Regions from separate parts of the Homo sapiens genome. Here region 1 is linked to region 2. The links come from fine-mapping of genetic effects on gene expression. A gene starts in region 2. The other region holds a variant in brackets. All regions are shown on one strand. Distances are between the middles of the regions.

Region 1 (4,384 bases), 74 kb before region 2:
CCATGCTTGTGATCTCAGCTACTTGGGAGGCTGAGGTAGAAGGGTCACCTGAGTCTAGGAGTTCAAGGTCAACCTGGGCAACATAGCAAGACACTGTCTTAAAAAAAAAGCCCCAAAGCAGCTGGGTGCAGTGGCTCATGCCTGTAATCCCAACACTCTGGGAGGCTGAGGAGGGTGGATCACCTGAGGTCAGGAGTTCAAGACCAGCCCCCTGGCCAACATGGTGAAACCCCATCTCTACTAAAAATAAAAAAATTAGCTGGGCATGGTGCCTAGCACCTGTAATCCCAGTTACTCGGGAGGCTGAGGCTGGAGAATCTCTTGAACCCAGAAGGCAGAGGTTGCAGTGAGCCAAGATCAAGCCACTGCACTTCAGCTTGGATGACAGAGCGAGACTCTATCTTAAAAAAAAAAAGAAAAAAAAAAACAACCAAAAACCCCTAATGCAATCCCAGATCTTAGGGAAGAGTTTTCAGATAATGAATGTAAAAAGCATTGGGGATAAATATGACTTTTCTAGAGTCCCAGGCACCCAGTGTGTAACAACAGAGTCAAACAATGTTTTCAGACTCTGGGGCATAGCCTGCCTGATATTTTTTTTTTTTTTTTTTTTTGGCAAAACGCTCTCCCCATCTCTCTCTCTCTCTCTCTCTACCCCCCATCTCTCTCTCTCTCTCTCTCTCTCTCTCTATTACCTAGTAAACTACTAGAACAGTGAGACTCAGCACCCACCTGCTTCCCTCATGCAACTCCCACCAGTTACCATGCTAACAGGCTGGGATCAGGTTCCTCATGCAGCTGACTGCATTCAGATGCTGAGCTAGCAAATTTCATGCCAATAAAATTACATCACGGGTGTATTACAAAATGCAGGACTGCTAAAGGAGGGGAACAAGCATAAACACAGACTTGAAGAAACTTTAACCTGGTGTGGTGGCTCACACCTGTAATCCCAGCACTTTGGAAGGCCAAGGCAGGAAGATCACTTGAGCCCAGGAGTTCAAGACTAGCCTGAGCAACACAGTGGGACTCCATCTCTATAAAAAATATTTTAAAACTTAACCAAGTGGGACTAAAGCATGTGCCTTTAGTCCCAGCTACGTGGGAGGATCAATTTAGCCTGGGAGGTGGAGGGTGCGGTGAGCCGAGATTGCGCCACTGCACTCTGGCCTGGGTGAAGAGGGAGACCCTGTCTCAAAAACAAACAAACAAACAAACGACAACAACAACAACAAAAACCAAGAGTCTTTGAGCTACAGTTACATAGGGATAGTCTTAATTCAGAGTTGGGAAGTAGAACTTAAGTTCCGGAGCTGGATGGTAGTGATGGTTGTACAACAATATGAATGGACTTCATGCCACTGAACTGCCCACTTGAGAATGGTTAAGATAGTAAAGTTTATGTGTACTTTATGACAATAAAAAAATTAAGAAAAAAAGTAAAATTTAATTTTCTCCACATATATGTGGATTTGTGATTATGTTGCCCACCACTAAAAAAACCAAGCCCCTAAAAAGACCACATGAGATGGCACAGGCCTTGGCTGAGTATTACCTGAAAGGCTGGATACCTGTCACCCAAAGAGTTCTTTGTATGGTGGCACCTAGGTCAACCTGATTTTGGACAGGCCACATGCTGAGACCTGGTTCTCAGTGGCTAACCTTGCTCTATGCGCAAATGCTAGTGTTGACACTGCAACTCATGTCTATACTTCCATCAAGCCACTTAGAAAAGACAACTAACACTTTGCATCTTCATTTTCCTCAACTGAAAAAATAGAGAAGAGGCAACCTTAAAATAAAAGGCCGAAGAGATGTTAAAACTTTCATTTCCCATATCTTAAACAATCTTGAAGCTTATTTTAAGTTTCAAAGAATAAGGTTAATGAATAAACACAATCTACTCAGGAAAAAA[A/C]CATTTCTTAAATGTATTTAAAAACACAAATGTTTAGGAGTTATTTATACCTCTATTGTATTGCTTGCTACCAACAATAGAAAATGTGATGACAAACCAGTGACTATAGCCAGAAGTAATTCATGTCACCAAGATAGAAGATAAAAGCAAGAAGCTGTGACGGTGTACACATCTGCTTTGGTCTGAATGTCTGTGTCCTGCCAAATATTTCTATGTTGAAATCCTAATCTCCAAGGTAACAGTATTAGCAGGTAGAATCTTTGGGAAGTGATCAGGACACAACAGTGTAACCCCCATGAATGGGATCAGTGCTGTTATAAAAGAAGGCTGAGAGAGACCCCTGGACCGTTCTACCCTGTGAGGACGCAGTAAGAAGGCACCATCTATGAACCAGGCTCACCAGACACTCAATTTGCTGGTGCCTTGCCCTTGGACTTTCCAGCCTCCAGAACTGTGAGAAATAAATTTCTGTTGTTTATTTTTATTTATTTATTTATTTATTTATTTATTTATTTATTTTGGAGACAGAGTCTCACTCTGTTGCACAGGCTGGAGTGCAGTGGCGCGATCTCAGCTCACTGCAGTCTCCGCCTCCCGGGTTCAGGCCATTCTCCTGCCTCAGCCTCCCGAGTAGCTGGGACTACAGGCACCCACCCGCCTCTACGCCCAGCTAATTTTTTGTATTTTTAGTAGAGACAGCGTTTCACCATGTTAGCCAGGATGGTCTCGATCTAACCTTATGATCTGCCCACCTTGGCCTCCCAAAGTGCTGGGATCACAGGTGTGAGCCACCGCACCCAGCCAATTTCTGTTGTTTATAAGCTACCTAGTTTATGGCATTTTGTTATACCACCTAGAACAGACTAAGACAACACCAGATGGTACTTACAGAAATAACAGACGGGTCTCCACGCTGGGTTTCTGCTTTATCAGGTGACTGGAATTGCACAGGGAGGTAACTTTTATGAGGATCACTAGTAAACACCACCTAGACAGAGAAGAAGTTCCATATTTATGGCAACTCTTACCTTCCTCCAAAAGGTTCCCTCAATATAAAGTTAATTATAATTAAAGCCAGTGGTTGTATTTCTTATTCTGAACTTTTTGTACATATTTCATGACCTAGAATTCCATCTTGATATTCTTAACACAGTAAGTATATATTTGTTCCTCATTTTCTGGAGCAATCCCAGTTTCAAATAAATATTATTCTTGTTGTTCACTTCAGTTCCATAACTGATTAAATAAATGTGCTTTATATTTATATTTAAATCTTTGTAAACATTTTATGGAAAAACAGGCACAAATATTTTTTAAAGTTTTTTTCAGACCATGGTCCCTCAGTCACTCTAGGAATGAGGAAAGAAGTGTAGATAACAAGGACTACCCTGTTAAGAAACGTTTACTAACTTTGAACATGAGCAGGTCTCAACTCCTCTTTGTGACCTGCAAGGCATTCCATAAACAGAGTTGTGCCTTATAGACAGGCCCCTATTTTTCCCTGTGCTGTTACACTCAGGCAGGGCCTCACTTTCCCACAAGCACTCCACCCTCTTCCTTGCCACTCTGCCTTTGCTGATGCTGTTCCCTTCCCAGGAATGCCCTTCCCTTTTCCCTGTACTCCTCCAAATTACTCCCAGTCTCCAAAACCTGTCTCCTCCCTAAGGGCTCTCTTCTCATTCAAAAACACTTAACTCTCACACAATTTAACACTTAGAGGTACACTGTCCATATAAACCAATGTTAAAAACTTCCCTGCAAGAATAAACAATCAGCCGGGCATGGTAGTTCATGCCTGTAATCCCAGCGCTTTGGGGGGCTGAGATGGGTGGATCACCTTAGGTCCGGAGTTCAAGACCAGCCTGGTCAACATGGCGAACTCCAGCCTCTATTAAAAATACAAAAATCAGCCAGGCAGGTGGTACACATCTGTAGTTCCAGCTACTTGGGAGGCTGAGGCAGGAGAATTGCTTGAGCCTGGGCGATGAAGGTTGCAGTGAGCTGAGATCGTACCACTGCTCTCTAGCCTGGGCGACAGAGTGAGACTCCATCTCAAAAAAAACAAAAAACAAAAAATAAACAGTCAAAATGATCCCAAGTCGGAAGCTGGGTAGTTCTTTGAAGTCTCCAAGTTTGGGGTCAAAAATTCCTGTGAATTTTCCTATTTACTCCTAATATAAATGTGTTTGGTTTTGACAGTCAGAACAAAAATTAGGCCGGGCATGGTGGTTCACATCTGTAATCCCAACAATTTGGGAGGCCAAAGTGGGAGGATCGCTTGAGCCCAGGACTTTGAGACCAGCCTAGGCAACATAGTGAGACCCCGCCTCTATATTTAAGAAAAAAAAAATTACCCACAAATTTTCAAGTAAAAGCGATGTTCCCAGCGACTTCAACTACTTTGCAACTGCACAAAGTCAGTAATCAATACATTTTAAAAAAATGAATTCTGATCAATGCTTCATGCAC
Region 2 (4,384 bases):
ACCTCCACCTCCCAGGTGCAAGCGATTCTCCTTCCTCAGCCTCCCGAGTAGCTGGGATTACAGGCGTGCACCACCACACCTGGCTAATTTTTTTTTGTATTTTTAGTAGAGATAGGGTTTTACCATGTTGGCCAGGCTGGTCTCAAACTCCCGACCTCAGGTGATCCACCTGCCTCGGCCTCCCAAAGTGCTGGGATTACAGGCGTGAGCCAATTGTGCCCGGCCTAAGTTTCCTCTTTCTAAAATGTGGCTTGTCTTTCTCAATTTCAGAAACTTGCCCAAAGCATGTAGCTCTAAGCAGTACCCTGTCAACTTCAAGATAATGGCCCACAAGACTACATTACCCTCCAGCTTGTCTTTTCTTGATAGCTGTTTGAGGACAGCATTGATTAGGCCTATTAGAACATGACTGAAGTGTTGCCCCATTCTGGTTTCCTGTTATGAATCTGACATTTCTGAAAAGTCACTGGTTACAGACTAGATCAAGGAAGGAGACTACTCAAATAATTAACTGTGACACAGAATATCCAGATAAACACCATGTAAGAATTTACAGATTCTATTTCCCTGTCCACACACAGGAGAGTCCTCAGCTCACTATCTCATTCACAGGTTAATAAGAACAGGTGATGACTCAGAATTCGCTTCTAATCTTAGTTTTCTGAGCCTTTAAGCACACATACATCAGAAAAAAACAGCGTCAGGAGGACTGAACAGAAAGCCAGAAGACAGATTTCCAGTTCCGCCCAAACTGATCCTCTAATGCAGGTACACAGAAGCTGGGGGAAGTCATTTCGGTGTGAAGAGAAAAGCACTCTAAAGTGCTACCCAATGTTTACTAAGCAGAGGACATGCCTACTACACATTCTTCTGCTTTGCCCAGAAATGCAAACTAAAAAGAACCCTTTGTATAGGTAATCAGACCCACAACCACAGTATGATACCCAGACCAATTCTGAAAAGAACAAGCGTCCTTCAAGGGTCAAATAAGCATTAGTAGCTCCATTCTAGCCAACCAAAGAAAGATAAGGCTAACCATTTTAAAGGTGTTTTTTTAACACTGAGCCATTTCCAACAGATTTGCCTGGCTGCTCTGGGGAGTCAGGCCTCCCTCAGCTCAGGTGAAGCCTCTACCCTTTCCCCTCTCTCTAAATTCTTCTCACTTTTTACCGGGAAGAGCAGCACATCTCAATACATGCAACTGTGCAGCAGCGCATCACTCTGTCACACTGAATCAAGGGGAGTGAACTCAAGGCAGTGAGTAGCTCATGTGCACAATGAAAGTTTTAAAAATTATTAGGCAGTCTATCCTTAATCCCAACTGCTGATAAAAGGAGATATATATCAAAGTCTGTTTTCCTAACCTGCGGAGAATTCAAGTGAGCTGTTTCCGCTCCAGGTCGAAGTCTGGTGACACTCATCAACCCTCAGCAGAGAGCATCCAGGGAATTCAGGACCTTGGTTTTATCGCTAAGGGTGTAGCCACTAGTGCTATTAACAGCAGCACTCTGGGTCCTCACAGAGAGGGCCCCCCTCCTTTACCAGGATCTCCCAACTCTGCAGAGAAAAGCTGGGAATAGGGTCCAGGGCTAAGGCTATTCCCCAGATTTAAAGGAAGCTGTACACGATTTTAAAGCCTCACCTTACCTCAGCTAACAGAGAGGCAGGGGGCGGAGGGCGGAGGACCCACCAACCCAGGGGAATTGTAAGGAGACAAAGATGACCCCAAACGCACAAGCGCGCGCGCACTGAAGCCCGGACTGCAAAGCACATTCCATCAACCTTTCACTGTAATCGGCTTACTGTGGGGTTTATCCCCTCACCCCATCCCTCTCCAGAAAGTTTAAGGCTGTTCGCACCGACTTTGAAAGGTCCATTGTTCCCTTCCCCGTAAACGTAATGAAAAGAGAGAGTGGAGAGAAAGAAATCAAGACACCGTTCCCGAGGACCCTTTCTTAAGAAGAGAGGACTGACTCCTGGGGAGTCGGGTCAGTCCCAATCCAGAGATGAAACCGGGAAAGGAGGCGCACGGGGGAAGGGCGGGAGGACGTTTTCCTTTTCGGCAGAAATGCCCAACGCCGGAGCCGGCCAGGCCGCCGGGAGCAGAAAAGGTGGGCGAGACCCGGGTCTGCGTCCCCGCAGTGGCCCCCGAGGGCAGCAAACGAGGTGGAGCGGGGTGGGGGGGCGGGTGACCGAGTCGCTTCTTACCTTCCCCTACCCCGCTTAGCGTCCGTTAACTCAGGTGCCTACACAGCGGTCCAGGGAGACGGAGAGGAGTCCCTGGCGTCCTCGGGTCCAGATCTCCTCTCCATGGCCAGGAAGCCACTCGATTGCCGGCGCCCGCAGCTGCCGCTCGTACTCAACTGGCAGCCGCAGCCTCTGCCTGGAGGTGAAATACTCTCCTCCCGAGAGTGACGCGCACTTCCCTCCGCCTCCGCCTCCTCCTCCTCCTCCTCCTCCTGCCCCGAGCCTCGGGGGCAGGGGCCTCGGCTCGCTCTCTCCCGGAGCCGCCGCTCGGCTTTCTCCGTTCCTTCCCCTCCGGGAGAAAGAGGAGGAGAATCGTGGCCCGGGCGGCGCGGGCCTGAGCGTCCCCGCGACAACAGGGGAGGAGGCGGCGGCGCGGGGCAGAGTGGGGTCCCAGGAGTCGCTCTTGTCCCTGGTCGGCGGGCGCCGCGGCTTGCTAGGGTCGCGCTCAGCCTCCGCCGGCCAGACAAGCAGCCCGGCTCGGCTGGGCCGGGAACTGTGGATTGGGCGGGCGGGCGGGCGGGCGGTGGAGAGCGAGGGAGGCGGAGGGAGAGGAGGAGCCTGCCATCAGAGGAGGCGGTGGCCCCGCCCGGCCCCTCCCGCCGGCCCCGCTCCCCGCGAGCTGCGAAAGCGGAGGCTCAGCGCCACTCGCTGCCGCGCGCTGGAACAGCGCCCGAGCGCACTGCCGGCGGGGCAGAGCCCCAGCCAGCGCCCCCCGCTGCGGCTGCAGGCTCCTACCCTTCCTGGGCGCGCACACCCGCCTGGCCGAACCGGAGCCTGTGCCTCCAGCACCCCCAGATAAGGCTGGTACTGCGCCTGTCACTCCCTGGCTGAGCCTGACACTGCGCCCCCAAAGTCCCCTGGCTGAGCGTGACTGCACCCCATCAACCCTCGGCTGCGTCAGACTTTGAGCCCCATCACCCGTAAAGAGATTTCCACACTCCCACAAATGTTCTGAGCGTCCAGTCACAGCCCCTACCTGGCCAGGCGCGAGCGCCAGGTTCTCAGCGCTGTCAGAAGAACCAGCCTGCTCTGGGACACAGGGCAGCTCTTCTGGTCCCTTGGAGCAACCCCAGCATCCCGCTCGCAGGCCGGAATAAATATACTTAGGTCTTCCCACGCCCCCTACCTGCGCCACTCTGGAGTGGCGGCCGCTTGCAGAGGTGGCGCCGAAAGCCACGCCCCGGCCCACCCCAGTGCCAAAACGCCGCTCTGAGGACACCGGCACCGGCCCTGAAGCAGCCCTGCCGCCGCCACCCTGCCCCCTCGCTGGAGCTGCTCTCACAGCCTTGGCTCTGGGTGAGGGCGCGGCCCGGGCTGGATCACTCAGACGCACGAGGTCCCGAGCTAGTGACAGCTGCAGGACTGCCAAATCCGGGCCGTCGTCATCCTCGATTTAATTGGAATTGGAAGTTTTCCCTCCAGGAAACTCTTTCAGTGAATAATATACAAGGTAGGATAGTTTAGTTTTCAGGGTTGTTCATTCCTCCTCCCTCAACAAACTCAGTCCTGTAACCGCGACACACCCGGCAGTGAAGGGGAATCCCCTATTTCAAGGGTATTAGTTCAGGACTTTGTATAAGAAATTACTGTTTCCAAATCTTGGCTGATGATAAGAATCCCCTGGGGCACTTAGAAAAAATTGGATTGCCAGACGTCGCGCAATCTACTGAATCAGAGGTATCGGGAATATGTAAGTTTGGGAAACAGGGCTAGAATGCATCCTCTAATTAATTAAAGCCTTGGAAAGATGCCTCCAAAACAGCAGCGCGAGCTAGTGCTGAGATCTTACAGAAACTTCACCCAGCTGCCTTTGAGAGCCGCTGTCCCTTCTGGGATAGGCAGGGAGGAAAGGTTTTTAAAATAAGGAACATAGTTTTGAATAACAAGATGGAAGGGACAAAAGACTGTTTTCATGGTCCAAAGGTGTTTTGGATTGTGCTTAATAAAGATAGAAACTGTGTCACCCGTGTGCTAGGCTGAAAAATGTTCCCTCCCCAGAGATAACAGGTTCTAAGTCCTGGAACTTGTGCATATTACCTTACATAGACAGAAGCAGGGCCTTCGCATATGTGATTCAATTAAGGGTCTTCTTGAGTTGGGGAGATTATTCTGGATGATCAAGATGGGTCCTAACTGC

Alleles and levels. Positions count from the first base shown, and alleles are read on the strand shown. Sizes are in standard deviations (SD) of each study's normalised expression.
For the expression in monocytes of the gene that starts at base 2,365 in region 2, allele A in region 1 goes with a higher level than allele C (moderate effect, 0.62 SD a copy in BLUEPRINT).

What was found. PIP is the estimated chance that this variant, and not a neighbour inherited with it, causes the effect.
Region 1: its variant is the best candidate, but not a certain one, in a credible set for the expression of CEMIP2 in monocytes (BLUEPRINT, PIP 0.52).

Annotation. Positions count from the first base shown.
Region 1 is chr9:71,691,705-71,696,088 of GRCh38, forward strand. CEMIP2 (cell migration inducing hyaluronidase 2) reads right to left here. Exons shown (of 24, transcript NM_013390.3): 21 at 2,805-2,903. Among named protein-coding and RNA genes, the nearest start is that of CEMIP2, 75 kb to the right of the region's middle. The variant A/C (reference allele first, on the strand shown) is at 1,916.
Region 2 is chr9:71,766,149-71,770,532 of GRCh38, forward strand. CEMIP2 (cell migration inducing hyaluronidase 2) reads right to left here and starts at 2,365. Exons shown (of 24, transcript NM_013390.3): 1 at 2,209-2,365. RefSeq lists enhancers at 2,023-2,704, 2,705-3,386 and a silencer at 2,460-3,129.